Homo sapiens: one gene and its partner. The gene in region 1 interacts genetically with each later gene. Each region holds a gene or a part of one and is shown on either strand. Other genes may lie near its edges.

What was found.
Region 2: changes in TIMM9 (region 1) and MICOS10-NBL1 together harm fitness less than expected from each alone (positive genetic interaction), as found in Homo sapiens cells (one large-scale study listed by BioGRID).

The regions. Positions count from the first base shown.
Region 1 is NC_000014.9:58,410,532-58,414,031, forward strand, and holds part of TIMM9 (mitochondrial import inner membrane translocase subunit Tim9), read right to left. Parts: intron 1,441-3,500; 5' UTR 1,415-1,440; coding exon 1,376-1,414; intron 408-1,375; coding exon 312-407; intron 1-311. UniProt on the Homo sapiens protein: Mitochondrial intermembrane chaperone that participates in the import and insertion of multi-pass transmembrane proteins into the mitochondrial inner membrane.
Region 2 is NC_000001.11:19,648,979-19,652,478, forward strand, and holds part of MICOS10-NBL1 (neuroblastoma suppressor of tumorigenicity 1 isoform a precursor), read left to right. Parts: intron 1-3,500. UniProt on the Homo sapiens protein: Possible candidate as a tumor suppressor gene of neuroblastoma. May play an important role in preventing cells from entering the final stage (G1/S) of the transformation process.

The DNA of each region.
Region 1 (3,500 bases):
CCAAGTTTCTCTAGGTAGGCCATCTTGGCTGAAAGCTAATTAGTAAGAATCTTTGTTGTGAAACAGTAACTCAGCAGCTGCAGGCATCTTCTCTAAAATGGTCTGACTTGGTACAATGTAACTGTCATTAAATTTGGCACTGTTAAACTCAATGCCGTGGTTCAGTGGCTGCTTCAGTTCTTCCAAGCAATGGAACATAAAAGGTAGTCTAAATTCCTGTAATAAGTAGGAACAAGTGAAATGCTTAAGGGGATCCTACTTAGAGTGTTTATGAAGGCTTGTAGAATTTTAGTGAGTAACACTTTTCATACCTCTTCAGGTTTTACTTCTCTTGTTGTGAAGTCTTTAACACAGTCCAAAAAGCAGGTCTCTGTAAGTTTATTGTAGGTCCCCAGAAATTCCTTAAACTACAAACAAACCAGAATGTTCTTTAGTATTTGGTTTTTAAAACAAAGATGCTTTGAAACTTAAATTACTGGTATTTTATATTTAGACAAAATATACTATAACACTTGAAATCATAGTTATTATGCTAACTTAAATGGGTACAGTATGATCTACAGAATAGTTTTATTTTCTAGTTGAATATTTAATTTTTCCTTGATTATCAGTCAGATTAAAAATACATATGCTTGGCCGGGTGCGGTAGCTCATGCCTGTAATCCCAGCACTTTGGGAGGCCGAGGTGGGCGGATTACCTGAGGTCAGGAGTTCGAGACCAGCCTGGCCAACATGGTGAAACCCTGTCTCTAATAAAAATACAAAAATTAGCCAGGCGTGGTGGCGCATGCCTGTAATCCCAGCTACTCAGGAGGCTGAGGCAGGAGAATTGCTTGGGCCCGGGAGATGGAGGTTGCAGTGAACCAAGATCGTGCCACTGCACTCCAGCCTGGCCGACAAAGAGAGACTGTGTCCAAAAAAAAAAAGAACAAGAAAAATACGTACACTTTATAACATTTAATATCCATTTTGGAAATGAAATAGAAACAATTGTTTTGTGAAACCACTGACATGGTTTTTTTTTTTGAGATGGAGTCTTGCTCTGTCACCCAGGCTGGAGTGCAATGCCACGATCTCGGCTCACTGCAGCCTCTGCTTCCTGGGTCAAGCAATTCCTGTGCCTCAGCCTCCCACGTAGCTGGGACTAGAGGTGTGCGCCAGCACGCCCAGCTAATTTTTGTATTTTTAGGAGACGGAGTTTCACCATGTTGGCCAGGCTGGTCTTGAACTCCTGACTTCATGTGATCCACCCACCTGGGCCTCCCAACGTGCTGGGATTACAGATGTGAGCCACTGCACCCAGCCTGACATGGTGGCATTAGTAGCACCTTACATTTTTTTGCAAAATCTTTTCCCCTTAATTAGAATACCTTACCTGTTTTATCTGATCAGATTCTGGTATTTGTGCAGCCATATTCTTCTGGTACCTTTATTAGTCACCTAATTTAAAAATTCAAAACAAGTTTGTCAATCTATAAACAAATGTTTTTAGTCTAACTGAAGAGTTAGGGAATCACTGCTCGTATTTTATAAATCTGTGTATGTAATTGTATGCCACCACCCCCAATTTCTCAGATCATTAATGACCATAGAACCTTACAGTTGAGAATTAGATTTTCTTTTTTTTTTTGAGACGGAGTCTCACTCTGTCACCAGGCTGGAGCGCAGTGGCGCCATCTTGGCTCACTGCAACCTCTGCCTCCGGGTTCAAGCAATTCTCCTGCCTCAGCCTCCTGAGTAGCTAGGACTACAGGCACACACCACCATGCCCAGCTAATTTTTGTATTTTTAGTAGAGATGGGGTTTCACCATGTTGGCAAGGATGGTCTCGATCTCTTAACCTCATGATCCGCCTGCCTCGGCTTCCCAAAGTGCTGGGATTACAGGCGTTAGCCGCCGTGCCCGGCCAGAGAATTAGATTTTCTAATGCTAGTTTGGGACTCAAAGGCCCTGTCTATCAAAATCTCCAGTTTTAAGATAGTTTGCTCTGCTACCTTGCTAAGCTGCTTGTTTAAAGCCCCATTCCTAGGAGGGTTATAAAGGAAACCAAGATGGTGAAGTTTGGGCTTAAAAAAATAATTAAAAAAAGCTGGGTGTGGTGGCTCATGCCTGTAATCCCAGCACTTTGGGAGGCCAAGACATGTGGATCACTTGAGGTCAGGAGTTCAAAACCAGCCTGGCCAACATAGTGAAACCCTATCTCTACAAAAAATACAAAAATTGGCCAGACGTGGTGTCATGTGCCTGTGGTCCCAGCTACTTGGGAAGCTGAGGCAGGAGAATCGCTTGAACTCAGGACGTTGAGGTTACAGTGAGCCAAGATCACACCACTGCACTCCAGCCTGGGTGACAAAGTGAGACTCCATCTCAAATAATAATAATAATAATGATAATAAAAAGAAAAATAAAGGAAATCAAGAGATTTTTGCTGTTTTCCTAAAATTACTTAACTATTCCACTAGTCACCAAATTGCTTATTTTAAATTTTTTACTATTATACTCAGTCGAATACATCAAAAATATCAAAGATTTTAACATTTCAACATACAATCACATAAAAAGTATTAATAAGACATTTTACGTTCCTTTTCTGGTAGTAAGTCTTTGATTTTGGTGAGCATTTTACACTTACACCACATCTCAATTTGAATGCTAAATTTTCATCAGAAATACTTGGCCTATATTTAGATTTAATAAAATCTATTGTTGAAAAAGTAGATTCATATATCTGAGCCACTCCAAATACACTTAAAATTAGTTGCTAATTTAACTCTGACCCTTACTACTAATGATCCTTTTACAATGTAAATACAAAGGTTCTATTAATAGTTAACAAACACCAGTTAACAAACACCATTTGCTTAGAAATTGACAACCCTCATGAAGGATATTCAGAGTTTTAAAAGAAAGTTACAGGAATTATACATTCTACTACACATTCTCTAGTTCAAAAAGGGCAATCACAGAGACTAATCAGAGACTTCTAATTATAATCTAACGTGGCGGCAACAGGGAAGGGAAGACAAGTAAATAAAAAAGCCTTTCTGAATTCCTGAGATTTTCACATATCCTAAATGTAGGACTTAGGTTCAGTTAATCTAGATATAAGAATGTGTATAACATTATTTATTTACTATATCCTGGCTAGTTCTAAAAAGGTTGAGCATTTCATATAAAAGATTTGTATTTGTATAGGCTGGGCGTGGTGGCTCACGCCTGTAATCCCAGCACTTTGGGAGGCTGAGGCGGGCAGATTACGAGGTCAGGAGATCGAGACCATCCTGGCTAACACAGTGAAACCCCGTCTTTACTAAAAATACAAAAAATTAGCTGGGCGTGGTGGTGGGCGCCTGGAGTCCTAGCTACTTGGGAGGCTGAGGCAGAAGAATGGCGTGAACCCGGGAGGTGGAGCTTGCAGTGAGCCGAGATTGCACCACTGCACTCCGGCCTGGGTGACAGAGTGAGATTCCGTCTCAGAAAAAAAAAAAAAAAAAAAAAAA
Region 2 (3,500 bases), on another chromosome or scaffold:
CCAGGCAGTGGCTGAACGCTAGGGTGTTAACAGGAATGAGAGGCGCAGTCGGCTGGGGCAGTGGTGGGAGCTCCAGGCCTCATCCTGACTCCAGATTCCATCGTTTCTTGCTTCTTTCTCTTCGGTGAACCTTTTGACCTGCAAGGGTAGCTGGGGGTTAACCTGCTACCCTCCAGGTTCAAATCCCGGTTCTCCTGTTTACTAACAGTGTAAGCCCAAGCAGATTTCTTGGCCTCTCTGTGCCTCAGTTTCTTCATCTAAAAATGGGGGAAAGAATAGGATCAGGCAGTTATCATAGGACAGAATAAATTAATATCCAGTCACACACCACACAATGATGAACCACGTACACAATGGTGCTGCCATAAAATTATTATTATTATTATTATTATTATTTTGAGATGAAGTCTCGCTCTGTCCCCCAGGCTGGAGTGCAGTGGTGCAATCTTGGCTCACTGCAACCTCTGCCTCCCGGGTTCAAGTGATTCTCCTGCCTCAGCCTCCTGAGTAGCTGGGACTACAGGCATGTGCCACCACACCCGGCTAGTTTTTGTATTTTTAGTAGAGACGGGGTTTCGCCATGTTGGCCAGGCTGGTCTCGAACTCCTGACCTCAAGTGATCTGCCACCTCGATCTCCCAAAATGCTGGGATTACAGGCGTGAGCCACTGCGCCTGGCCTCCCATAGAATTATAATACTGTATTTTTACTACACCTTTTCTTTCTTTCATGATTGTGTAGTGGCATGATCCTGGCTCACTGCAGCCTCAACCTCCCAGGACCGAGTGATCCTCTCACCTCAGCCTCCCAAGTAGCTGGGACCACAGGCATGCACCACCACACCTGGCTAGTTTTTAAATTTTTGTAGAGATGGGATCGTCTTATGTTGCCCAGGCTGGTCTTGAATTCCTGAGCTCAAGCAATTCTCTCACCTTGGCCTCCCAAAGTGCTGGGATTACAGGTGTGAGCCACCATGCTTAGCCTACTTTACGTTTTCTTTTCTTTTCTTTTCTTTGAGACAGAGTCTCGCTTTGTCGCCCAGGCTGGAGTGCAGTGGCGTGATCTCGGCTCACTGCAAGCTCCGCCTCCCGGGTTCACGCCATTCTCCTGCCTCAGCCTCCGTGTGTGTTACAGTGACCTACAGTATTTAGTACAGTCACATGTGGTCCAGATTTGTAGCCTAGGAGCAATGGGCTATGCCATATAGCCTAGGTTTGTAATAGCCTAGACTATTCAGGTTTGAGTTCACTCTATCACCTAATGGCACATTTCTCAGAGTGCATCCCCATGGCTAACTGACGCATGACTATAGTTGCGCTCTTATATTTAGTTCAGAATTCAGAACCTCTGCTTCCCTCCTGAGAGCCATCTCTGACTGTGCCAACTCAAAACAACTGCCCCCTATTTACCCACATCCCTGGACCTCCCCTCAGGGGAGTGTCTGAGTGGGCATAGGGTCTGTGCCCCCAGCTCCCTGCCCTCACCCTTGCCTTTCTCCCCACCCTCCTAGAAGTGAGTGAGTGTGGAACTGCAGGGCCCTGAACGGCCCAGGGCAGGGCATTGCTTTGCCTGACTTGCTGGGGGCCTTGGGACAGCCCCTTGCAGAGCAGGGAGACTTGGCTGGGAGATCTCCAACTTTCCTTCCCGCCCTCGCTTTTGGGGAGTCCCATGACTTGCTGTGTGACCTTCAGGGCGGGAGGAAGGGTTGAGAATCTGGGTGAGGCTCTCAAGGCTCAGGAAGGAAAGTACGATCGCTGCTTAAAAAAAAAAAATAGATTAGTTGCTGCTTGAAAAAACAAAAAAGCGTAAACCAACAAAAAAGCATAAACCAACAAAAAAAGAAAACCTGCTAGCCAAGAGCCCACCCCACCGGTGGGGGCAGCCTGGGCTCTTCGGGGCTGGGCAGGAGGGTGGGCGGAGGCAGGTGTGTCTGGATGACAGCCGTGTGTGGGAGAGACTTCATCTGGCATCCTCGCTGCCTCCTGTTCCAGCCCAGCCTTGGCTCTGATGCTGGCCCAGCCTTTCCCATGATCCCCTGGGGGGAAGAGAGCTGACCTTAGTGGGTGCCTCCTAGGTGCTGAGTACCTTCATTTACTCCTCCCAATTCTTCTCCAGGGAAGGTGCAATGCTTCCCATGTTAGGGTTGAGAAAGGCAGTTTCTGAGGAGTGAACTTATTTCTGGAGTCACACAGCTCCTAAGGGGAGGGGCTGCAGTTCAAACACTGGGGACTCCAGGGTCCACGCTTCCAGGGGGAGCCCGGGGAAAATGCTGGAGCTCCACGCTGCTGGCCCGGGGAGGCCGAGGCCCCAGCGCCCTGCGGAGAGCCTGCTAGGGCCTGGTGGGTTGGGTTATAGCACCCCTCTGTGGACACAGCTGGCCCTGTGATAACCTCAGCTGTGCACTGGAAAGGGTGGAAGGTAAGGAGGGGGCCTTCTGCCTCAGTTCGTCTCATTTCTCCTAACCTCTGTCCCAGCCTGACGCTGATAACCAGTTCCTGATCTCTGGGCCTGCAACCTCTTCCAAAAAGTCACCATTACCCCATTTCCCAGTAAGCCTCCATTAGCCTCAACCCCAGTCTCAACACTCGGCTTCAGCCTAGTTGTGACCCACAGCCTCGGTTGTGACCTCTCCTAATTCCAACTCCAAGTGCTCACCCCAGCCTCCCTCCCTCCCTCTGTCCCTCCCTCCCTGCCTCCCTCCCTCTTTTCTTTCCTGTCCTTTTTTTCCCTTTCCTTTTTGACAGGTTCTTGCTCTGTCACCCAGTCTGGAGTGCAGGGACGCAATCATGGCTCACTGCAGCCCCAAGCCTGGTCTCAAGCCATCCTCCCGCCTCAGCTTCCCACATAGCTGGACTACAGGTGCACATCACAATGCATAATGTGATAATAAAAAATGTGTTATCACAGTGTGATAATAAAAAAATATTTTATTTTATTTTATTTTATTTTGAGACCAAGTCTCACTTTGCTTCCCAGGCTAGTCTTGGACTCCTGAGTTCAAGTGGTCCTCCCGCTTTGGCCTCCCAAAGTGCTAGAATTACAGGTGTGAGCCACCATGCCTGGCCCAGGCTACTTGCATTACAACCCCAGTCTCAATTCCAAATCCACATCACTTTCTGCCCCAGTCACCTCCCTGGCCCCCTGTGACCTGTTGTTCCTGAGGAAGCAAGATGGGGTCAGATATAGGAGGACAAGAGTCCCTGGACCTCTCCTAAGGGTCTAGGGGGCCAGTCCAGCCCAGGGAGCCCTGGCCTTAAATGGACCTCCAGGACCCTTCAGGTGTGCTGTGGGCAGACCTGACTCAGGAGTGAGGAAGCCGCCTGCATGCCAGGCTTGTTGAAAAATTCACTGGGTTGCCAGTTAGGGAGGAATCCATTCTATTTTGTTAGGATGTGGTTGTACTGGAAACATGGGCTTTGTCAGCAAGACCGGAAATGCGTGGGTGAGGGCCTGGATCGTGACAGGAACTCATTTGGGAGGCGGCGGGGGGGCAGCCTGTCC